Linked DNA regions of Homo sapiens: all the other regions are linked to region 1. Evidence: fine-mapped expression QTL. A gene starts in region 1. Each other region holds a variant in brackets. All regions are shown on one strand. Distances are from middle to middle. Region 1 holds the start of MAP3K14 (mitogen-activated protein kinase kinase kinase 14). Region 2 holds the start of SPATA32 (spermatogenesis associated 32). Region 3 overlaps MAP3K14 (mitogen-activated protein kinase kinase kinase 14).

Evidence for each region. PIP is the estimated chance that this variant, and not a neighbour inherited with it, causes the effect. A credible set is the group of variants that fine-mapping cannot tell apart.
Region 2: its variant is the best candidate, but not a certain one, in a credible set for the expression of MAP3K14 in whole blood (TOPMed, PIP 0.87).
Region 3: its variant is the best candidate, but not a certain one, in a credible set for the expression of MAP3K14 in whole blood (INTERVAL, PIP 0.66).

What each region holds. Positions count from the first base shown.
Region 1 is chr17:45,312,506-45,320,679 of GRCh38, reverse strand. MAP3K14 (mitogen-activated protein kinase kinase kinase 14) reads left to right here and starts at 3,660. Exons shown (of 16, transcript NM_003954.5): 1 at 3,660-3,720.
Region 2 is chr17:45,254,784-45,262,957 of GRCh38, reverse strand. It overlaps SPATA32 (spermatogenesis associated 32), which reads left to right and starts at 864. Exons shown (of 5, transcript NM_152343.3): 1 at 864-954; 2 at 5,751-5,805; 3 at 6,543-6,582; 4 at 6,885-7,843. The coding sequence starts at 942. It overlaps MAP3K14-AS1 (MAP3K14 antisense RNA 1), which reads right to left. Exons shown (of 4, transcript NR_110326.1): 2 at 7,740-7,823. RefSeq lists enhancers at 1-426, 861-950, 427-1,032, 6,296-7,056 and silencers at 981-1,030, 1,101-1,220. The variant G/AG (reference allele first, on the strand shown) is at 3,924.
Region 3 is chr17:45,286,132-45,294,305 of GRCh38, reverse strand. MAP3K14 (mitogen-activated protein kinase kinase kinase 14) reads left to right here. Exons shown (of 16, transcript NM_003954.5): 2 at 3,541-3,816; 3 at 5,001-5,070; 4 at 6,942-7,152; 5 at 7,261-7,875. The coding sequence starts at 3,561. Among named protein-coding and RNA genes, the nearest start is that of MAP3K14, 27 kb to the left of the region's middle. RefSeq lists silencers at 529-823, 3,632-3,835 and an enhancer at 529-823. The variant A/G (reference allele first, on the strand shown) is at 4,019.

The DNA.
Region 1 (8,174 bases):
TTCCTTGGTGACATCTAGCAATGTCCAGAGACATTTATTGTCACATTGGGTGGATGAGGGAGTGCTATAGGTATGTAGTAGACAGAGGCCAGGAAAGCTTTTAAACATCCTGCAATGCACAAGACAGCCCTGATGTGGTTTGGCTGTGGCCCCACCCAAATCTCACATTGAGGCCAGGCGCAGTGGCTCATGCCTATAATTCCAGCACTTTGGGAGGTTGAGGTGGGTGGATCACTTGAGTTCAAGACCTGCCTGGCTGACGTAGCAAAACCCCATCTCTACTAAAAATATAAAAATTAGCCGGGCATGGTGGTGCACACCTATAGTCCCAGCTACTCAGGAGGCTGAGGCACGAGAATCACTTGAACCCAAGAGGAGGAGGATGCAGTGAGCTGAGGTCGCGCCACTGCACTCCAGCCTGGGTGACACAGGGAGACTCCATCTCAAAAAAAAAAAAAAAAAAAAAAAATCTCATCTTGTAGCTCCCACAATTCCGTGTTGTGCAAGGGACCCAGTGGGAGATAATTGAATCACTGGAGCAGTTTCTCCCATACTGTTCTCATGGTAGTGCGTAAGTCTCATGAAATCTGATGTTTTTGTAAGGGTTTCCCCTTCACTTGGCTCTCATCATTCTCTCTTGTCTGCTGTCATGTAAGACATGCCTTTTGCCTTCTGCCATGATTGTGAGGCCTCCCCAGCCACATGGAACTGTGACTCCATTACACCTCTTTCCTTTATAAATTACCCCATCTCAGCTATGTCTTTATCAGCAGCGTGAAAACAGGCGAATACAAGCCCCGTCCCCCAACAATGAATTATCCAACCCCAAATGTCTATAGTGCCAGGCTGAGAAACCCTGGCCTAGAGGGAACATTCAGTGAGGTTATGCACATGAAGTACTCTAAGTCTATCTGGCTTACTTTTTGTAAAGTATCAGAAAACAAGCTGCGATTCTTTCGGAATAGCACAGTCTTAACGCTATTTCCAGACCTGAAATGGATGGGGTGTGAGAACCCTTGAGTACTGAGAACCTAGTTCACTGCTCCAGGTGTGAGTCATCCTGTAAATGTCAATTTCTTGTATTTAAAGCAGAGCTGAGGCTGCACAAGTGACTCAAGGCCAGAAGCTTTCCCAGGTTGTCTTGACTTAAGCTTGGAGGAAGTAATCTCGTCCCGAAGCTCTCCTTCCAGAGGGTGCAAGCATTTCAAGACTCAGAGACACCACACTGCTCACTCTGGGTAGGTGTATTGTTTCTCACCTCACCCACACACAGTGGGGCTTGGAAAGACCTCAGAAAAGTAGCTGAAACGGAGAGGCCTTGCTTATCCCGAATATCTTCCTTACCAGTGTTTAGTGGTTTGCTCCTCCCCTGCAACCTGATGTGACATTCCTTCTCCAGAGTTACAGTTTTGAGTCAACACAGTTCACTGTCTCTGATTAATACACATTAATGTTCAGGGACGGACTTAAAGACAGATCATCTTGATGGGGTAGGTGGGAGTGTACAGGGGACCCAGGACCAGAGGTGTCAAGGGAACCTGGGCAAAGTACAGAGACACTGGGTGTTTTAAAGAAGGAATAGTGAAAGAGAGAGAAGGCAAAGGCAAGCCAGGGAGTGTCTGCAGACTCTGGAGGTGTGCCCACATCTTTCCTGAGAAGTGGTGTGCCCAGAGGCAAACAGGTGGTGGGAGAGGCAATAAGGGCATCCAAGATTGCCGATACCAACCTGTACATCTGGCCAAGCTCTGCCTTTCCCTGAGTCACTGAAATGCAAAACCCTAGGGGTGGAAAGAGATTTGGGGGCCACCAGTCCAGCTTCTTTCTTGTCTGCCATCTCCCAGCTAGTCAGTGGCAGAGCCAGGGTGGGCGCCAGAGACTGTTTGGCTCTAAAGCACGGACTCTACGGGAGCCACAACCTCAAATGCTCCAGGGGCCAGACAGGTGACATAAGGTTAGATGGTTGGGTGGCGGGAACTGTAAGGAACCGCAGGCTCTGCTCTAAGGCATTCAAATTCAAATTTAAAAAAATATTGGGCCAGCCAAACAAAGCATATTTCTGGCCTGGGTGAGTGAATGAGGCCCTCAGGTTGTGAGTTTTTGACCACTGCCTAAATAAATGGTCTTCCCTATTCCCCAGCAGAGATGACTGTTTGGCACAGATATCCAGAAAGAAGAGTTCAGCTTCGGACTGTCTGCAAAGTAGTCTCAAGCAGATGGTGGTCTTTGCTCAAACACTTCCAGAGATGGGGTGTTCCTTACTTTTCAAGACAGCCTTGGGTGGGGCCTGCCTATCCCCGGACTAGAGCCACTCACCACACCTACCATGGACCCTTCATGGAAGTGGGATGCCCAGGGTAGGAGTACATCTTTTATTTTGCAATAAAAAAAAAAGTTTGGATTTTTTTTTTAAAGGACTGCCTCACTCTGTTACCCAGGCTGGAGTGCAGTGGCACGATCATGGCTCACTGTAACCTCAGACTCTCAGCCTCCCCTCTAGCTGGGACTGCAAGTGCAAACTACCACGCCTGGCTATTCTTTTATTTTTTTGCAAGGACGAGGTCCTTGCTATATTGCCCAGGATGTTCTCCAACTCCTGGCCTCAAGCGATCCTCCTGCCTTTGCCTCCCAAAAGCGCTGGGATTACAGGAGTGAGCCACCGTGCCTGGCCTGGAATTTATTACAAATAAAATACAAGCTCAGTGTGGAAACACTAGATAATACAGAGGGGCAAAAGTTAGAAAAAGTTTCTATACCTTCCCTACTCCCCACCCCCGACCCCCATTCAGAAAGAAGCACTGTTGACACTTCAATGCATATTCTGAACTCCAGGTCCTTTCTTTGCATACATCAAGCTCTCATCCTCTTGCTGGCTCTGTGGTCTGCAAACCCAGAGAGCAGATGCTTTGCTCAGCGCTCGTACCACGCCACGCACCCACATGCTCTCTTTGTACCTGGGTTTCAACCCACAGGTCGGGCCCCTGTAAGCCCTTGGCTCCCCAAGCTTCTCGAGGGCAGGCACTGTAACCTTCTTTACTCATTCCAGGGATTCTACAGGACCAGGCACACGGTAAGAGCTCAATAAAAACGTCTCTACCCCCACCACCTCCCGCCTCAGCCGCCACCGCTTGGCAGCAGAGAGGAAGCGGAACGCGCGCGACCCACGAGGGAGAGCGCCTCGCTGTCTCCAAGGTAACCGAAGTCAGTGGCAGGGAGTGCCCACGCATGCGCACACTCGCCCTTCCTTCCCGTAACCTCGAGAACGCAGCTGGTAAGACTGCCAGAAGCCGAGGGCGCATGTGTGGTTCCACCAACACCCTAGTCGCCTCCGCCTTCTGTCAGTCCGCCCGCCCAGCGATCTCCCTTCTACAAACATCGTCCGGAAATAGTGCCCATTTCTGGAAACCAGGCCTCGTTAACCAATCGTTGCTAGGGAGCGGGAAGACGGGCTTGCCGGGACGACCGTCTCATTGGTTGGCGTAGGGGAGTGGGCGGGGCCACGGGTCGCGGTGCGGCCAAAGAAAGGAGGCGCGAAGCGAGGCAAAGTTACAGCCTCCGGGGGAGGCGTGGCCCCGGGGGCGGCCGAGAAGGCGAGGGGGCGGAGCCCGGGACCGGGGCGGGGCGACCACGGGCCGGGAGCTCAGCGGTCGGCGGCCGGCGGCGGGAGATCGCGGGCGAGCGGAGCGCAACACTCGCTTGGTTGGGGAGATCGGCGCTTGGCCGGTAGGTGACGGGGCGGGACCCTGGGGCCCGGTGCGAGGCGACCAGGGAGCGGCTGGGATGGATCGCCTCTCAGCCCCGGGCTGGGCTGCGGCCTGGCCCCTCGCCCCGGAGCAGTGGGGTCGGCGGCCAGGCCAGCGCAGTCCGACGTACCCCGTCCAACCCACTCGCAGCGGTCCGCGGGCGCGCCCTCGCACGCGCTGCCGGTGCCGCGCTCGCCCCGGGCCTCCAGGCCGCGCACTCCTGCTGGCCACACGCTGGCTCCGAGCGCGCGCAGGGGCCGCCTGCTTCCCCTTCACTAGTGCCCCGCGCCGCCGCCAGGCCCGCCCGCCTGCTCTGCGCCCCAGTGCCCCCAGGATGGAGCTCGCCTGCCGCGGGGCGGACGTGTCTCCTGCAGGAGTGCGCCCTGGCATCTGCCCTGGCGTGAAACCCTCCCGGCCTTTCATGGGAAGTTCTCAGGTCACACCTCAAGGCGGGGAGCAGGAGCTAAGCCTGTCCTCAGCATGCAGCGGGGCAGTGCTGGCCGCCCGCAGCATCCTCCCTCCGCCCTCGGACCCCAGTCCTCCTCTGTAATTCTTCTGGGCTCTCCAACTCGGGACTTTATCTGTCGGTTCAAATATAACATTCCCATCTTGGAAACCCATCGTGGCCCTGGCATCTTGCAGCCACTGGGCACCAGGCAGAGAGGGGCCACTTGTACGTACGTTTCCCACCTGCCCGGGAGCCTCCTTAGTGCTGGGTAGCTTCAGAAAAAGTGTTTCCTTCCTAGTCGAGGTTAAAAAGTTGCTCTCGGCCCTAAAGGGTGGACTGGAGGTATGAATGAGGGAGAGGATAAGTGGTGAAAAGGTACATACATCAGCAAAGTAAATGGTAAAACTACTTTTGATCGCTGGAGACAATGAACACCAATGACTTAATTAAGGACTTTAAAAGCACATGAAATTAAATGATTAGAGTGAGGTCATGATATAAAATAGGAGTCTGGAGTTTATTCCAAGAAAAATGTTGGAAACCCCTTGACTAGAAACATGGTCTTTCTGAAAGATTAGAAGGAGACAGTATCTTAACATTAGTGATGTGTTTTTTGCTTAGTGTCTTCATACCTGTGAGCTCCGTTTTCCTTCAGATGGCTGTGTGGTAAGACAGATTGTAGTGTCTTGTTTTATGGGCGAGGCACCTGAGGCAGGTGTGTATGAGGGAGTGGGGGTGGTATATATCTTGCCTGATGCCTCATAGCTGGGACTAAGGATGGGTCTTTCCCAGAATCCTAGATCAGGACCACATTATAGAACTGAGATGCAGAAAGGAGGGAGAAGTTTTTGGTGTGGTTTTTATGCTCTTAATGTGAGAGGACACTTAAAAAGTGCTTGCCTTACTTTGGTTGTGTTTGGATTTACTCTTGGTGTTTTTTAAGTGATATCAATCAGTTTCTTTGGAGCGATGCCAGACCTCTGAATTTTTCAGACACCTTTCGGACATCCTTATTTATTTTGAAGGGTGTGGAGAACTTCTCAGAAGATCTCAAAATAAAAGTAATCGTCTCTGACTCTAATTTTAGAGATAAGTACCCAGGTATGTGTACCAGCTCTTTGTGAAATCAGACAGCAAGACGCTGCCAAGCTTCAGGCCATCTTCTGAGTGTTTTCTGATTATAAGAAGCAGTTCTGAAGGGGGTTTTTTGTCATTGGTATTGTCTGTTAAGAGTTTGTGGGAGCGGCACCACAGAGACCCTGCCAAATCAGTCTCCCTCTATTAAACAAAAATGTCTGGTTGGGCTGTTTCGCCTCAACAGATGAAGGTTTGGTTCCTCATTTTGGTTCTCCTGTTGAACACTGACTCCTTTGTGATCTGCCTGGAATATGTGTATATCATTTACTGCTGAGAAGATGGCTTGCGCTGATTGGTTGTCCAGCCCTCGGCAACTGTTGTGATTTTTTTTTTTTTTTTGGTGATTGATAACAGTTCATCCCTGGCTAGGGTCTGGTGAGAGATCTGCGGAGATGTGAAAGAGATGAAAGCTTTATCCAGGGTTGTTTTCTTCGTTGTTGGCACCCTCTGAACAGTGTTGTATCACTTTGGCCTGTGAAGGCACTTTTAACTTCCTATTTTTTTTCCTGTCTCAATGGACAGCACATGGGCTTTCCTAACAAGCCTGCCTGCCTCGATGAAGAGCTGACAGATTCATATTGGTTGGTTTGACAGATGTTCTTTCTGGGGGGAAAGTTCAGAAATCTTAAAAGCAAAGTCAGTCCTAAGTAAAAAGTCTAAGTCAGCCCAATACGCATAAAGGCAGCGTACTTCTACTAATGGCTTCCATCATCTCAAGGTTGTTTTTTTTTTTTTCCTGGCAAAAGGTTAAAATGCAACTAAAATTCTGCTTTCGTGATTAATAAGTCACTACCACAGTTGTGTCTGATGCTTCCTGTTTGCCCCATTTTAGTATTTCAGTTAAACTGGAAACATCTGAGCATTATGGGCACTATTGATGGCACCAGTGTGAAATTGGTGGGCCGGGGACAATTCCATGTCAGTGGATTTAGGGAGCTCTAAGGATGTCAGCCCCTCTGGTCTCCACACACCAGGATTCCCTAGTAAGGGAACAGAATGGGGCTGAGCATCTGCAAGAGCTGGGTGGGCATTCAAAGTGATGCATGTGTGAAGGTTTTGCATTTACTCGGTGATGCTGGCTAAAATGCTGAAAGTAGTAGCCCAAAAAGGGAAGGCCAGACGTAGGGCAAATTGTAGGGGAGCATTTCTGTTGAGCTGAGCAGGACATTGAAGTATGAGATTTTTTTGTTCTGGGCTTATGACTGCCTGAATGACAATGCAGAAAAAGTCATTTTTCTTCAGTGGCCGGTGTGCTCTTTGTATTCTAGTTTAAAGGAGCCTCTTCCCTTCTTGCTTTTCTACATGTCTTAATCCCTCAGCTCCCTGATAGAAATCCCTTGAAATTATGTGGCATCAAGAATAATTTTATGGCCAGTCTTTGTATTTTCACACCATACTCATGTGAAGAAGGGCAGGGACAAAGATCAGAAAAGTGAAGCCTCATAAGGAGAAACAGACAGGATTGCTCAGAATCTAAACCCCCTTTTCTTGATATCTAGGTCACTGCTTTTTCTACTACCTTGCTCATGAAACGATAAGGATTTTCTTCCCCCAAACATGTCAATTTTGAACATAACGAAACCAGGGTAGCAGCTTTATTTATTTATTGTACCAATCAATTATTAATTGATATTGATTTTTAATTAATAAAAGGCCAAAAGATGAATAGCCTGCTGCCTGGACAGGTGTGCTTGTGCCCATTTTCCAGATGTAGAAACAAAGGCAGAGAGCCCGTGATTTGTCCAGAGCAACAGAACAAGTCCTTGGTGTCTCCGTGTCACATGTGGTGGCTGAGGCTGTCAGGTCAGAGAGACCTGGGTCAGGTCGAGGTCTGCCACGGCCTGCCTGTGTGCCCGCAAGCAAATCACTTCACTTCTCTAATCATCAGGTGCCTCATCTGTGAATGGGATCAGAAATACTTCATGGGGCTGTTTTGAGTAGAAAATGAGAGGAGATATGTAAAGTGCTGAGCCCAGTGCCCAGCACAGAACATAGAGGCTGTAACTGTTGTTGTTGTTGTTGTTGTTCTTGTTGGTGGTGTTTGGTGGTGGTAGTAATAGTAGTAGTAGTAGTAGTAGTAATAGTAGCAGTAGTAGTTGCCAATTACTGCATTGTGACTAAACCTGTTTTCTGTAAGATGATGTCAAGAAGGGTCAGACTGCCTGACAGGCCAGAGTCATTTTCTCAGTAGGACCTTTAGGGGGACAGTCCTTCAGTCTAAAAGCTTCAGCTCTCGGGTTCTCCCTGTCTTACACTATATACTGCCCTCACCATACTCCAAATGAGGCTACAAAGGTCCAGGCTCTGCCCAGTTGACAATCCTAACTCTGAGCTGGAGACACAGCTAGGCCTGTCTAGGGGCTTCCTGTGTCCCACACGTGATCAAGTAGGTTCCTGCATTAATCCTGGAGGTGAGGAAAGGGAAAATACTGTATGGCATGTAGATCAGCAAGGACTTGTTCTTTGGGGGAACAGGAGGGAACATTTGGTTCTGTGGGATGAGGTTCCCACTACCACATGGCATCCCCAGCTCACCACCCTTTCCCCCTCGTAAAGATGTCTTTGTCAGCTTCTCTCTGAGACTCTGTCTGGGGGCCCACGATCTGCAGTCAAGGACTTGCAGATTCCCCTTTAAATCTCACAAGAAGCCTGGAATGGTGACGTGTGTTTCTTTAGTCCCAGCTACTTGAGAGGCTGAGGCGGGAGGATCACTTGAGCCCAGGAGGTCAAGTAGCTATGGGCAACATAGCGAGACCCCATCTCTTGAAAGAAAAACGTTTGTTTTAATCTCACAAGGGAAAAAAAAAGTTTCATGTTATATTTTAAAGTCTTTTTTCACCTTAATACAA
Region 2 (8,174 bases), 58 kb after region 1:
TGCTTCTAGTCCCAACGCTGGGCTAGTCATTCAGACCAGTTAGGCAAGATACCTTGCCCGGTGGCATCAGGGAAGTCCCTCGCCAAAATATGCCAGGCTGAGGGGTGGAGGAGGAGGACAACAAAGCCTGCATGCTTTGTGCCACTGCCCAAGTTAGGCAGCCCCCTACCACCAGAAGGGAAATAGGGATGGGTTCTGGGCCCTGACCATCCAGGGATGCCGGATGCACACCACAGGCCCTCCACCCTCCCCTCCTGTCCTTGAGGCCTGGACTCTTAACCCTTTCCGCTGCCTCCTGAGCCCTGCATGGGGCCAGGGATGCCTTTGTGGGCTGAGTTCCTTGGTCATGGAGCTGGGGCACACGGGGTGCTGAGTTCCTTGGTCATGGAGCTGGGGCACACGGGGTGCTGAGTTCCTTGGTCATGGAGCTGGGGCACACGGGGTGCCTTATCGAATCTGGCTCCACACTCCCTGTGTGCACAAGTGTGTGTGCGCGCGGCTTGGGTTGGTTTAGCCGGTTCTTGGAAGGGCCCTGGGACCACGAAAAGGGCGGCAGCCCTGAGCCGCTGGCGTGCAGAGCGGGTGCAAGTCCTGTCCAGCACAGCCAGGCTTACCTGCCGCCTGCCTCTCGCTCTAGGCCCGCTGCGGAAGCGCGAGCCCCACCCCCGAGGTCTTCGGAGAGGAAGGAGTTCTGGCTTCGGGCCCGCAGCCTTCGGAGGACGCCTCACTCGGGCCGTCCCCCGTCCGCCCGCCCGAAACCTAAATGCGGCTCCCTGCCTGTGGGGTCGCGGCGGGGACGTCACAGAGGCGGCGACATCACAGGCACCGGCGCCTCTAATATTTCCAGCGCCCACCAGTCCCTCAGCCAAAGAGCACACTGGAGGCGGAGAGGCAGCATCCACCAGCCCGCTCCCCGCCTCCAGGACAGAGCCTCGGTCTGCATGGGGGTGACAGGTGGGAGCGGCCGAGCGCCCGGGGGCGAGGGTTGGGGCAGGCGGGGAAAGCGAAAGTGAGAGGGGGAGGGGCGCGAAGGGGGCGGTCAGGAATCCGCCCAGGGCCCGTTCCCCTGCTCCCAAACCCCCGGCACCTGAAAGGCAGGTCGACCCGCCGCCAAAGCCCACCCGGTGCCCCTGACTACGGCTCCCAGCCTCAGCCCCTGCGCGGTGCACACCCATGTGCTCTCACGGACACGCATGCGCGCCTTGGAGTAGGGACTGCAGAGTCAGTGGTTCTTGAAGGGGTTCTGAGACCACAGAAGGAGCAATGGCCTTGTGCACAGGAAACGACTCATGAATTATCCTGAACTGCAGATCCAAAAAATCACATCCAGTTGTCCCTCCTTGATGCTTGAGGCTTTGCAGGGAGGAGCGGCAGTCTTCAGCACATTTTTACGGAGCGCTTCGTTGATGCCTTGTACTCTTCTCTGAACCAATGAGCAAAGATGTTTGCCCCCAGTGCCCTGTGTCTCCCCTTCCCATAGGGGCGTCAGATCCCCCACTGAAATGGTGGCTTTCTTTTGGGGATCCTCTCTCCCAGAAGGGCATGGGCCAGCATTAAAAACGGTCAAAAATTAGGTGGGCATGATGGCTCAACGCCTGCAATCCCAACACTTCGGGAGGCAGAGGTGGGAGGATCACATGAGGCCAGGAGTTCAAGATCAGCCTAGGCAACATAGCGAGACTTTGTCCTCTACAGGAAATGTTTAAAATTAGACAGGTGTGGCGGCATGAGCCTGTAGTCCCAGCTACTTGGGAGGCTGAGCTGGGAGGCTCACTGGAGCCCAGGAGTTGCAGTGAGCTATGATGCTGCCACTCCAGCCTGGGCCACAGAGCAAGACCCTGTCAAAAAAAAAAAAAAAAAAACCAGAGGTCGGGTGCAGTGGCTCACGCCTGTAAGGTAAAACGTAGATTAGACAGCCAGGTCTGTCATGGAGAGGATTACACTGATTATTTGAATTGGGCTTTCAGGCATGAGTAGGACTTTGCCAGAAGAAGGCTTTCCAGGTATAAGAAATAGCATTTGCAAAGGCACTGGGTGCAGAAAGGCCTGCGGTACTCTGGGGGTAGCTTCGGCTTAGGGTGAGGGACAGGAAGCTGGATGCCAAGAGATGAAAAATGAAGGTAGAGATCAGACCAAGAGGCCACATGGAGTCTGGGGGTAACCGGAGACAAGTGAGATGTAGCAGGCTCACTCTGAGGTCATTGAAAATCCAGGTTGGAGGGGGACATAGTTGCAGTGGTCCCACTGGAAGACTAAAGAGATTTAAGACAGTGCAGTGAGTAGCATCCCAGAGTTTGGAGCCAGCCAGACCTGCCTTTGGGTCGTGTGCTGCTCTTAATAGCTGCATGACCTCATACACGTTTCCTCATCTGTGAGAGGAGAGCCGTGGCCAACTGGGCATAGGGTAGGTATGAAGACTGAATGTGCAAAGCACTCAGCACCAAGTGCCAAAGGGTAGGAAGTCATGGGTGTGTGCTGGCTCTGGTACTGGGAGATGAGGACAGCATCAGGGGTAGGAGGGCAGTAGCTGCGGAGGGAGGAGGAGTCACAAATGACCCAGGTTTCTCATTTGGGTGAAAGGATGAAGGATGAATAGGGCGAGGAGAGTGGGGTATGGAGAGATGACAGACTAGAAAGGGAGACAGGGGTCAGACAGGCAGAACCGTGGCAGCCACACTTAAGAGTCTGGACATACAAGATATGAATTTGAGGTAAGAAATTAGGCCAGGCATGGTGGCTCACGCCTGTAATCCCAACACTCTGGGAGGCCAAGATGGGAAGATCGCTTGAGCTCAGGAGTTTGAGACCAGCCTGGGCAACATACTGAGACCTCATCTCCTTTTTTTTTTTTTTTTGAGACAGAGTCTTGCTCTGTCACCCAGGCTGGAGTGCAATGGCACCATCTCGGCTCACTGCAACGTCTGCCTCCCGGGCCGAAGCCATCCTCCCTATCAAAACCTAACAAAGACATTACAAGAAAAGAAAATTATACACCGATATCCCTCATGAATATGCATGTGAAAATTCTGAAAAAAAGCCAATCAGATTCAACAACATAGAAAAAGGGTAATATATCACAACCAAATGAGGTTTATCCCAGTAACGCAAGGCTGATTTAACATTTTAAAAAATAAATTTATAGCTGGGCATGGTAGCTCACACCTATAATCTAGCACTTTGGGAGGCCACGGCAGGTGGATAGCTTGAGCCCAGGAGTTCAAGACCAGCCTGGGCAATATAACAAGACCCATCTCTACAAAAAATACAAAAATTAGCTGGGGGTGGTGGTGAACACGTGTAGTCCCAGCTACTCCAGAGGTGAGGTGGAAGGATCACTTGAGACAGGGAGGTTGAGGTTGCTGAAATTGCGCCACTGAACTCCAGCCTGGGCAACAGAGTGAGACCCTGTCTCAAAAAAAACAATGTATTTTACCATAAACAGAATATAAAAATATAAAAGAATTATCACTCAAATAATATAACATTACTCATATGTTAATGTATTATAACGTATGTTATGTATAACATATATAATATCATATTAAAGAAAAACCATATGATCATCTCAATAAATGCAGAAAAAGCATTAGGCAAAATCCAGCATCCATTCCTAATTAAAACTAAGCAATCTAAGAGACGAAACTTCACAAAGATGCCCAAGCTAATGAAAGGCATCATGAAGAAACCTACAGCTAGCATCATCCTTAATGGTGAAAGGCTAAACACTTTCCCCTAAGCTCAGAACGAAGCGAGGATGTACACACGCACTCCTACTCAACATTGTATGGAGATTGTCCCCAGTGCAATTAGGCAAGTAAAGAAAATAAGAGGAACCAGATTGGGAGGGAAGAAGTAAAAGTGTCTTGACTCACACACATTATTGTCTATGTAGAAAATCCGATAGAATCTAAAAGAAAAAAAAA[G/AG]CTATGAGAACAAATAAGATTTTAGTATAGTTGCAGGATACAAAAGATGGATATATTTCTGTATACTAGCAACAAACCACTGGAAATTGAAATTATTTCGGCCAGGCACGGTGGCTCATGCCTGTAATCCCAGCACTTTGGGAGGCCGAGGCAGGCAGATCATTTGAGGCCAGGAGTTTGAGATCAGCCTGGCCAAAATGGTGAAACCCCATCTCTACTAAAAATACAAAAAGTGAGCTGGGCGTCGTGGCGCATGCCTATAATCCCAGCTGCTCAGGAGGCTGAGTCAGGAGAATCGCTTGATCTCAGGAGGCGGAGGTTACAGTGAGCCGAGATCACACCACTACACTCCAGCGTGGGTGACAGAGTGAGACCCTGCCTCAAAAAAAATTATTTCAATTATTTCATATACTGCAGAATATCACTTGAATCCCTAATAGAACATTCTCAAGTCAGGCAACGAGGTCCCAAGCTGAGTCAATGTCTGACTTTTTCTCCCAGCCCCCAGTGCTGTTAAGAGGCTCACACAACAGTAATTTCTTCTCCTGTCCATACCCAGCTGCCGTTTATGGAGGGGTTGAGGCTGTGGGTGTTGATTAAACTGCCCAGGGAAATTCTGTAAAGGGAGCAAAGGCCCTGAGGTCAGAAGCCTGGGGGAACAGCAGGACCTGGGACAGGGGGAGTTGGAGAGGGAGAAGAGAGACACGTGAGGAAGCCAGGGAAGCATAGTGGTCAAGGAGGTGGAGGGTTCTGAAGAGATCATTGAGCCGGCCACTCTGCTGATACATCCCCCAAGACCAGGCTGAAGCAGATGGTCCCAATCCCAAGACCAGCCATGCAAGGACCCCTCCCTCCAGCCACTACATCTCTAGGAAGAGACCGCAGTACATTCTCATCCTTCCAATATGATCCTGGGAGCGATTCTTCCCAGCCAGAGCCAGGGCTGTCACTTCCTGCCATACCCCAGGCTGATGGGGACCCACCTTGCATGATGGCAGGGTTGTCATGATGGCCCCACCATCAACCCCTATGCATGGCCCTGGGTAGCAGAGAACAGGGCAGCCTGGTGCTTCCCACTCCCACAGGGTGAAGAAACAGCTTCTGCAGTAAAAGATACAAGCCTCCAGGGAGGGGTTTGGGGTTGCGGACGTTCCCAAGGAGTCAGTCTCCCCTGCAGAGGGTGATCTGAGCTCATAAATCGTCGGATAGGTGCTAGCACCACCTCAGATTACACACCTGGGGTGCAGGCCTTGGCCTGGAGTCAGTGATGGATGACCCAGAGAGAGGAGAGGAAGCCGGCAGAGGAGCAGGAATGGGGAGATGGGGGAGGTTCACATGGGGCGTTATTGGGACTCCACGCAGTTACAGGGTCCTGGGAGTAGCCGGTGGGGGCAGGGAGTTAAGAGTTTCCTGAGTCAAGCCTGCATTCAAGTCATCACTTCAGCTATGTTCAGCTGGGGGACCTTGGGCAAATGGACCTGTCCTAATTTTTTGTGTTGAATCAGTGAGATAAAGCAGGTAAAGTGACCAGGCTATGGAAGCGCTCTGTCATGTTCAGGGTACTGTTAGCAGTCACGGTTTTGGGGGATGGAGATGGAACCGGGAGCCTCCGAGGAGGCAAGGCACAGACGGAGAGTGGAGGGAGCAGGACTGGAGGATAGGAATGGCGACCGGCTCGGGAACAAGGAGAGCGGGGCAGGACGGTGAGGGGGAATAGCAGCCGGGAAGAGAGAAAAGAAGGGCAGGAAAAGGGGGCTGGCTCCGGAATCCCTCTGGGACTGTCCTCTACCCTGCAGCTCCCTGCCCTCACCTCCTTTCCCCTGTCAGGTGCCCATGGATTTCCATGCTGCGGCAAAGGGTCAGTGGAGGTTGCAGAGATGCGGTGAGAACCATCCTCAATCAACGTAGGGCCTCCCCCGAGCCCTCCAGGACCTCCGACCTCACCCCCAGCCTAGGATCCCCCAGCCTAGGATCTCCCTCCCTTCTGCCATTTCCAAAACCTCCCCGGGGCCAGTGTCCAGGCCAAAAGGCTGGGGAGGGCGTGGGGCGCCTATCCTCCCACTTCTGTTTATGCCCTCAGCCCCTGGCATGAGAGGAAGACTGAGGGGTGGTGGGGCACACCCAGGGACAGGATAGGACCTGACCCCTCAGAGCTGCCTGGCTTGCTGAGGACAGAGCTGCTCAAGGCGGGGGTGGGCAGGCACTTGAAGAAAGAGTGGGCAGGTGGGTGGGAGGACATTGCTCTGGGGCTCCCCTGCTGGGGACTAGTGTTCTGGGCACTAATCCTCGAAGTGAGTTGCCCCAGCTCACCTGCAGTGCTTGATAAAAATGAGATTCCTGGGCCTTACCTCCAACCAACTGGATTCCTCTTTGGGGGTGGGGCATGAGTTGGCAAGCAGCTTCCTAAACTCACTAAAGTTTCAGAATACAACCGCAGACTTCCTGGTGGCAGTGGAGTGGGACAGCAGGGGAGTGGATGAGCTGGTGGCGGGGTGGTCGGCGGGAGGTGCATCGTGCCAGCTTCTGTTACAAGGCAGAGGGCTTTGAGGGCCCCAGAAACCCCCTTCCCGCTGAAGCCCCACAGATCCCCATCACCCACTCTGTCTTCTTCTGTCTTAGAGATGACTTAAGTCAACACCAGATACAAGAGGAACAGGAGGTAAAAATGGGAGTGTCCTCTTACGGGGAGGTGGTAGGCAAGCGGCAGGGCTCTTCCCTAAGTCCCCACCAGCCCCTACCCTTGACAATCCTGGGACCCTAGTACCAGGCCGGTGTGGGTACACCCACACACACACCCCCTCACCGGGCAGGTCTCTGAGAGGAGGCAGGCATGGGGTTAGGGGGCGGGGGGAAGACAGCAGGACCCAGGGCAGGGGTGGGGCAGGGACTCGGTGCCAGGGAGGGCCTCAGGGGCAGGACCTCCCGCTCCTGCCTCCTCAGCTTTGAGTTGAAACATTTCAGCTGGAGGCAGACATGCTAGAGCAGAAGCCCCAACTCCAAGTGGACCTGGACCTGGACCCAGACCCAGACCCAGACCCAGAACTGGAGATCGGACAGGTGCCGGCTTTACTGGAGTCAGAGCTATACCCAGCCCTCAAGCTTGAAGCTGAGCTGGACACGGAAGCCAACTCGAACGAGGAGTCTGACTTTGAAGAACCCATGCAGCTGGTATGCAAGATAGAGTCCGTCCACTCCAACATGGGGCTGCCCACGCCACAGACCTTCAGACCGTGGAGTCTGAATTCAAACTGCCGGAGTTTCACGGAGGAGAACCACGTGTCTGCCTGCCATCACTCCATCAGTGCGCAGACCTCCAAGCACCTCTTCTGGGCAAACAAGCTCATCCAGGCCTCAGAGCACAGCCTGCAGCGGGCCATCAACATGCAGCTCAACAATGGCAGCGCAGGCCAGCCCATCAGATCCCCGCTCCGGGAGGCCATCCCCACCAACGCCCTGTGCTCCGAGGAGCAGCTCCAGATCCCTGATGCCCACTCAGCTCCTCCAACCACAAGCTCCCAGGCACCAAGCCCCCTCCTGTCCTCAGATCTCCCGCCACCCATTGACCTGACAGAGCTAATCACCTTTGCATCTTCCCTGGCCATGGCCTCCTCCAGCAGGATGGACCTGCCCAGTTTGGAACACATGATGAAAGCTCCACCCCAGGAGGCTCTGGAGCCTTCCACAGAGCCCCTCCTGACCACTGTGGAGGAGCGAGAGCCAGAAAATCACGCAGAGACCCTGCCAGAGAAACCACGCGAAGCCAGAGCACCACTGAAATCTTGGAGTCAGGAAGACAAGAACTTCGCTCAATCTTACTTTGACTTCAGCAAGCCGGGGATCAAGAGGGCCACCATCAAAGGGCAAATCCAGCTTCTCCAGCCACCAGCCACGTCCCCTCTGCTGCAGGGAAGCAAGGAAGAGTGAGTGAGGCCAGCCCCGCAGCTCCCATAGAGGGGCTGTGCTAGAACGTGGCAGGGGTCCTCACACAGCTGGGTAGGGGTGGGGAACAGTGGAATGAGGGCCTGGGAGCAGGATGTGGTGGGCTGTGACGCCTCCACCTCAGTGACCTCATAAAGGCTGTTGGAACGAGGTTCCAGTGGACTGAGGCGCAGAGCCAAGGCGAGGGCTGGAGGAGGCCTGGGGACCAAGGAGGGTGGGCACAGGGGCCTGGGTTCAAAATGGGAAGGACCACACTGGCATTAGGCGGCTTTCCACCCTGGGGGTCGGGCCTCACCAAGGTTGGGAATGCTC
Region 3 (8,174 bases), 26 kb after region 1:
GTGTCTGTGCATCAGGCCTCAAAGAATATGGAGTGAATTCTGCTCCTTTCCTTTCCTCTTCTGATTTCTTGGGCTTATGGGTGAGCCATGTGGGTTTGGCTGTTGCCACTGCTCGTGTCCTCAACTCTTATGCAGAGAGTAGAGGGCCCAATGCCTTTGGGGCGTGAATAAGCTGAGGAGAGTGTCTAGGCTGAGGAATGAATCAGGAGTTTGACTTGCCTTCAAAGGCAGAGACATAACTGGCTCCCACTTCGTCCTCCCCACACGCTGCAGGAGGGAGAAGGGGCAAAGTGTTAGGGCCATGAGCTGGGGTGACAGCCAGAGACCAAAGTCCAGGGCTGGGAAGGCCCCCTGGCCAGTAGTCCTGGACTTAGTACAGAACCATGATTTTTGTAGACCAGAGTCCAGATAGAATTAGGAAAGGAGGGAGGGAGCAAGTGCATCCGTATGTGTGTGTGTCTGTGTGTGCATGTGTGTGTGTGCATGTGTGTCTGTGTGGGAGGTGGTGTTTGGGGAGAGCCACTGTCAGGCCAAAGTGTCCCAAGAATAGCCTCTTGAACTTGGAGGCTGTCGGTGAGGGTCTGAGTCATGGTGATGTGGCACAGAAAAGCCAGCCACAGGAGGAGCTTTACAGCTCCCAGGCCGTGATTTGTGCCCCTGAGAGGTGAGGGTCAGCCTGTTTTCCCCATGTCCTTCACAAGTTCAGCTGCCATCTGCTGGGTCAGCTTCTCAACAGCCTCCTTGTTACTGTCTGCCTGCCAGGCTGTTGGATGAGTCATCGGGGAACTGCAAAGGAGTCTCTGAGCGTGGCTGCCTCAGCCTCAGCTTCCACTTCTCTGGGAAGAGGGGAGCCTGGTGTGCTCACAGAGGGGCGCTGGACAGCTGCCTACCTAACACCAATATGAAAGGACAACTCTGGGACTCGGGATGCCCTGCACCCCCTCTGGAGGAGTTCTAGCTCAGGATGACCTATCCAGAAGCCTCCGTTGGGCCATGCCAGGCGGAGACAGGCTATCAGAGCCCCCACACAGCCAGATCTCTAATAGCCACGTGCCCCTCAGAGCAGCAACTGCACCACCTGGCCTCATTTTTCTCATTCATCAGGCAGGACTCTCTCTTCCTCCTCAGCATTCGGGATCATCCTGTCTCCAAAGGTTATGGAAAAGCAATCTTTGTCCTTTGAGTCCCTCGTTCAGCCAGCGTCAGTTGCGTGGTCTGTGGCCCCTGTGCTATACACTGGGGAGGCACTGTGTGCAGGGCCCCACCTCTTCCCTCAGGAGCCTGTTGACCAGGGAGGACCTTAGTGTGCCCTCCTGCATTTGCCTGTAACCCAGGAGCTTGGGGAGTGGGCATCATAGCCTAAAGAACCTAGGGTCTGGATCCTGGCCATGTCCTGTCACACGTGGGTTGGGTGACCTTGGGCAAGTCTCCACTGAATTAGGCCTCAGCTTCTTCAAATAGAAATGAGGAGGTCACGCTCACATCGAGCTCCCTGTGAGCATTCCCTACTGCTGTTAGGTTTGGAGACTTTTTGGTCTGTTCTTAAGATCTCATTTCCCCTGGTAAAGAGGCTGAGAACAGTGGGATCGGCTCTGGGCTTAGGTCAGTTTCTTTTTTGGAGGTAGAGTGGGGTGGGGAGGTGTGAGGTGGGATGAAAGTACAGTTACAAGAAGCATAGCCAGCCTTGAAGGGCTTTTGCCTAATTGGATGTCAGAACACCCCTTAGACTTTTTTTTTCTTTTAGAGACAGGGTCTTATTCTGTCACTCAGGCTGGAGAATGCAATGGTGCAATCTCAGCTCACTGCAGCCTCAACCTCCTGGGCTCAAGCATTCCTCCCACCGCAGCCTCTAGAGTAGCTGGGACTACAGGCCAGCTACCCCAGCTAATTTTTTGTATTTTTTTGTAGAGACAGGGTTCCACCATGTTGCCCAGGCTGATCTTGAACTCCTGGGCTCAAGTAATCCTTCTGCCTCAGCCTCCCAAAGTGGTGGGATTACAGGCATGGGCCACCATGTCCGGCCCCCTCAGACTTCTTAAGATCCTCAGGTAACAGTGAGGCCACCCATTCAGCCTCCTCAGCATCTGGCGTTTGGTACCAAATCCAGGCATCCTTGCAGGAAGCTGGAGCTGCTCCAAGTTCAGAGCTAGGAGACCCTTAAAGACAGAGATGCAAGGAACTAATCAATAGTGAACAACAAACCCCACCACACCCGCCAGCCAAGCTGGCAGAGCCTTTCATAGCCATCGAGGTGGGAAGACCAGTGAGGCAGATTCAGAAGGAGGAATGCTTCAACCTAGTACCTCAGCTTCCCACCATCTCATTCAGTCCTCAGGCCTCACAGGGCAAAAGGCCAGAGGCCTTAGAGTTCAGCTTCAGATGGTGTACCTGTCTGCCCCAGAAGCAGAGAAGTGATCCAGGGTTCACAGAGTTATAGCAAGGAAGATGATTTCTGCTGGTAGCAGCTTTAAGACAAACCTACCATCAGAGAGCAGTTATTAAAAATCTGTCTGCATTTGGGACCTTCTCAGGCTGTTTCTAAAGCAAGTCATGCCTGAGAGGGGCCCTGCCCTTTAAAAACTCCCAGCCTTTAAAAAGGTTTCCAAATGGTAACAGTCTCAAATCAGTGCTCTTCTCTTTTTTGCCAATTCCAGTCTGCAGGCTGTTTGCACAGATTGTTGGCAACTCTGGGTTGCTCTTCTTTGCAGCTTCCTAGGGCTGGGCAAGACAGAACCCAGAGAGACGTGAATTCTTATGCTTTATTCTTTATTTCTAGAGGTATAGGTTCGTGTTAGGGCCTTGAATATAAATTCTACTCCTGATGTTGCCTGAATGAAAAATGATACCTAGAAGTTTTCAGCCAATGAGTTTGGACATTAGAGGAGGAAGCATGTTAGTTCCTTCTGGAGAGCCACAAACAGACGCATTGGGCAAGGAACCACGTGCTGAGCACCATTTGCATGCTGAGTTTTAGACTTTGTAGGACACACACACACACACACACACACAGATATCTACCTCCTACTAGGGAACAGAATAGAACCTTGCTTCTCTCCACTTGGAGAAAAGTCGCTGTGGATGGTGTGTGCCAACAGGTCCTCTCCAAAGGCTTATGTGGGGTCAGTGAGGCCATGGTTTTGGAGTCTGGGATTCACCACCCTGTCCTGGGGAAACAAAGTTTGCCATAAAACAACAGAAAAAGATCGAGCCATCATAAAGGCAAGAAAGAGCCAACCCAGACATTTGTGCCACAGCTCTCCTAGAGGGAGTGGGCTGGCATCCTTGCTGGACACAGTGAAGGAGGCTGTTTATGTTGTGGTACTGGGAGGACCGGGGGACTGTGCCGTGTGGAACGTGTAGCTGTTGAGAGGTGGACTCTGTTACCATTGAGGATGTTTGGAGGATGAGTATGTGTGGCAGAGGCACACATAAACAGGCAGAGACCCTTTGCCCCTGCCTTTCTCCCCCAACCCAAGGCTGACCTGTGTTCTCCCAGGTCTGGGATTCTAAGTGACCTGCTCTGTGTTTGGTCTCTCTCAGGATGAGCACAAGCCTGGGAGATGGCAGTGATGGAAATGGCCTGCCCAGGTGCCCCTGGCTCAGCAGTGGGGCAGCAGAAGGAACTCCCCAAAGCCAAGGAGAAGACGCCGCCACTGGGGAAGAAACAGAGCTCCGTCTACAAGCTTGAGGCCGTGGAGAAGAGCCCTGTGTTCTGCGGAAAGTGGGAGATCCTGAATGACGTGATTACCAAGGGCACAGCCAAGGAAGGCTCCGAGGCAGGGCCAGCTGCCATCTCTATCATCGCCCAGGCTGAGTGTAGGGGCCTAGGGTTGTTGTGGGCACGGGGCAGGTGGGTGGGCCTGCAGGTGGGTAGCTGGGCCCAGGGGTTCCCTATGGAGGAGAGAGGTCTGTGTCACTGCTAGATAAGATTCTCATGAGACACAACCAGAGGTCTGTGCCGAGAATCATGGAAAGTGGGGTTGTAAAAGTGCACAGATGGTGGATGTGGCAAGGGGAG[A/G]CTGTGCCCATCGTGACTGGAGCAGGGGAAGAGAGGTAACAGACGAGCACTCGGGACTCTGCAGAATCATCAAGCAGGCCATCAACCTTCTGCTGTGACCTTGAGCAGCCCCAGTGTCTGGAGAGGCTCCAGACAGGAAAGGCCAGGTCTCCTGGAAAGCCCCACTGGGGCCTGTAGGGCCTTCACCATCTTCCACCTAGAGGTGGCCCCACCCCCAGGAATGAGCACCGTGCTCTTGAGCCTGCTGGGCCAGTCCTGGGGCGGCAGGCTGCTGCAGGGTGAGACCTAGTCTGGTCCTTTCTTCTTCTACTCATGATACCTTATGATGACTAGTAATGGTGGCTTCCCTTGGAGACAGAAACTCCCACGAGGCCTGGGTAGGGCCGGGAGTCCTCTCTCTCCAACGCCTTCCCTCAACCCGGGAGGCTTCTTGGGGTGGAACCTGGAGAGCTGGACAGCCATGCTGTCATTTCTCCACACGCATACATCCTGCCCTCGTCTCCCACTTCCTCCTGGTTGGTTTTTGAGGAGAGATGAGAGAATAAAAACTAAAATACAGAGAGTGACATAATAATTGTTTTAAAAAAATACACATATATCCACACTTATATGTACACACATATATAAATACCTAATAGCTGTTTTTCCTATGAGCCAGGCACTGTGTTGAGCATTTTCTGTAGATCATCTCACTTCAGCTTCATAGGAAGTGAGGCGGGCGCCCTGTGATCCCCATAATATAGGCTTGGCTATTTCAGAGCAGGTGGCTGAGGCCGTGGTCTGCTCTTGACCAGTAAGCTGAGAAGCTGGGGAGAGACAGTGCGGGAAGGAGGCATTGGTGGGGAGGTGACTGCCAGACAGGGGTTGTCTGGAAAGGAGGGGAAGGAGAGGCGCCAGAGGGGATCTCTGTAAAATGTCTCTCCCCTAAGTGCTAAATTCCTATTTTTTCTCCTCTCTGCTAATCCAACTCCTTTTGCTTTAGGTGAGAATAGCCAAGAGTTCAGCCCCACCTTTTCAGAACGCATTTTCATCGCTGGGTCCAAACAGTACAGGTAAGCAGGGGAGACAAGCCTGAGTGGGAAGGTGGGGACTGGACCCAGCGCCCTCGTCCCCAGCACTTGCCTGGGCCGCTCCTGCTGACCCCGGGCTCCCTCCCTCAGCACCTGTGGTTCAGCTCCTGGAACTCACCCAGGCTTTCCTGGCTGAGCCGCTCTCTCAGCCAAATAAGCTTTTCAAAGGCTTTTCACAGCTTGTGGCTGACTGCCTCTGGGCCACATCAACTTGACATTTTATTTTTATTCTCCTCAGAGTCCTTAATGCACCCCCTCGTTTCCCATCAACAGGGAGGGTGCTGGGAACAGAAGCTGCTTCCCACTCTTGCGTGACCGTGAGCGCAGGCCGGGTTGGTGGGGGGGGCCTTCCACTGTCCTCTATGGGAGAAACCTGCTGGTGCCTTTTCTCCTGGGAGATGCACCGAGTAGGGATGCGGGCGGTAGAAAAGGAGGGGACAGATAGACTTGGTGGCCCGGTAGAAAGGAAGCCAGGGTGGGGCTGAGTCTGTTCCCAGGCTCTGCATTCCCCCACAGATGATTTTTTGAAACAAGAGTTCAAGTGCTGGGCACAATGGCTCTCACCTATAATCCCAGCACTTTCTGAGGCCGAGGCAGGTGGATCACGAGGTCAGGAGATCGAGACCATCCTGGCCAACATGGTGAAACCCCGTCTCTGCTAAAAATACAAAAATTCCCTGGGCATGGTAGCGCATGCCTGTAACCTCAGCTACTCAGGAGGCTGAGGCAGGAGAATCGCTTGAATCCAGGAGTCGAAGGTTGCAGTGAGCCGAGATTGTGCCACTGCACTCCAGCCTGGTGACAGAGTAAGATTCTGTCTCAAAAAAAAAAAAAAAAACAAGAGTTCAAGCTAGAAACAGCTCCTTCCCCTATCACCAGGCAGGTTTTGTATCATTGGAGTTTGGAACCTGCTAGTGATAAGATTGTGGGGAGGGCAGCTGGCTGCCTTGGAACCAAGAAATGCTCAGTTTGGTGGGATTCCTTCTGCTGTCCTGGGTGCCTTTTGGCCCAGGGTAGGAGCCTCTGATAGACACACTTCTTTCAGCTGTCCAAGAGAAGCCTGTAGGCCTCCAGTGGTCCCCAGGACTGCCATGAGTCTGCCTTCTCCATGGGGGCAGAAGATGAGGCCAAGGGAGGGTGGCTGAGGCCATGATCTGCTCCACAGCTGTTCTGCAGCAACCCATCTGTTGCCGGGTCCTTTAATACTTGGCAGGGATCCCAGTCCAGTTAGAGCCATGGCAGTGATGAGCCCCGAGGCCAGCAGAGAAGGGCAGGCTCCCCAGTACCAGGCAGCAGCCCAGGCTGTTCACCTTCAACAGCAGCCAGGGACCCCCAGGAACTGTGAGAATGGAGGTGACCAGCCTTACCTGTTCCTCCATCCGGAGGCAACAGAAACAAGCTCTGCTCAGTCAGAGCTGAGAGGCCTGCCATGAGCGTGGCCCCCTCCTAGGAACTCTCCAGGGGCAGCTCACCTTGGAGAGCAGTGAGCGAACCGTGTCTGCTCCCCTGACTCTCCCCAAGAAGTGCTGAGTCTGTACCCCATCACCATAGTAACAAGCACAGCTTCTCGGCAGCTTGCCTTGGGGCCAGACACTGAGCTGGGCTTTTTAAATGAACTAAATTATTGAAACTTCATTTCCACCCTGTATGGCAGAAAATACCAAACCCATTTTATAAGTGAGATAAGTGAGAAAACAGGTTCCTTGGGATTTAGAAACCTTGCCGCATTCACACAAGGAATGGCAACCTGGGATTTGACCTTGGATCTGCAGGAGTCCAGATACAAGTGTCTGGACCAGTCCATCTTCCTGCTTCCTCGTGCTCAATATGCAAATCTGTCCCTTTTGTGACAGCCAGTCCGAGAGTCTTGATCAGATCCCCAACAATGTGGCCCATGCTACAGAGGGCAAAATGGCCCGTGTGTGTTGGAAGGGAAAGCGTCGCAGCAAAGCCCGGAAGAAACGGAAGAAGAAGAGCTCAAAGTCCCTGGCTCATGCAGGAGTGGCCTTGGCCAAACCCCTCCCCAGGACCCCTGAGCAGGAGAGCTGCACCATCCCAGTGCAGGTGAGACCCTCCACCCACTGCCCAGACCCCAGGTTCATGGGGCCTTGAAATTGGAGCCTGTCCCTGGGCCCTGGCCCTCTGTGCTGATAGCTGTGTTTCCCCCCGCAGGAGGATGAGTCTCCACTCGGCGCCCCATATGTTAGAAACACCCCGCAGTTCACCAAGCCTCTGAAGGAACCAGGCCTTGGGCAACTCTGTTTTAAGCAGCTTGGCGAGGGCCTACGGCCGGCTCTGCCTCGATCAGAACTCCACAAACTGATCAGCCCCTTGCAATGTCTGAACCACGTGTGGAAACTGCACCACCCCCAGGACGGAGGCCCCCTGCCCCTGCCCACGCACCCCTTCCCCTATAGCAGACTGCCTCATCCCTTCCCATTCCACCCTCTCCAGCCCTGGAAACCTCACCCTCTGGAGTCCTTCCTGGGCAAACTGGCCTGTGTAGACAGCCAGAAACCCTTGCCTGACCCACACCTGAGCAAACTGGCCTGTGTAGACAGTCCAAAGCCCCTGCCTGGCCCACACCTGGAGCCCAGCTGCCTGTCTCGTGGTGCCCATGAGAAGTTTTCTGTGGAGGAATACCTAGTGCATGCTCTGCAAGGCAGCGTGAGCTCAGGCCAGGCCCACAGCCTGACCAGCCTGGCCAAGACCTGGGCAGCAAGGGGCTCCAGATCCCGGGAGCCCAGCCCCAAAACTGAGGACAACGAGGGTGTCCTGCTCACTGAGGTAACTAATCCCCCGGCACCTGTATATGTCCCTCTACCAGCAACCTGGGGGATGCTTTTCTCTCTTTATCAGAGTCACTCTTGCCTGTGGTGACAAATCAAACAGTAGGACAGTGCTCATTGTGGATGAAAAGTATCATCTCTTATTCCGCCAATCTCACTTCTCACAGCCTTTTTAGCGTCTTCTGTTCTGAGTTCTTCTGGTTGGTCACCTCCTGCTTGCTGAATGTGGGCACTGCATTAATAGTACACATGCTGAGGACAAGGGGAATCAGCCAGGAGCCACTGGAGATGTTATCA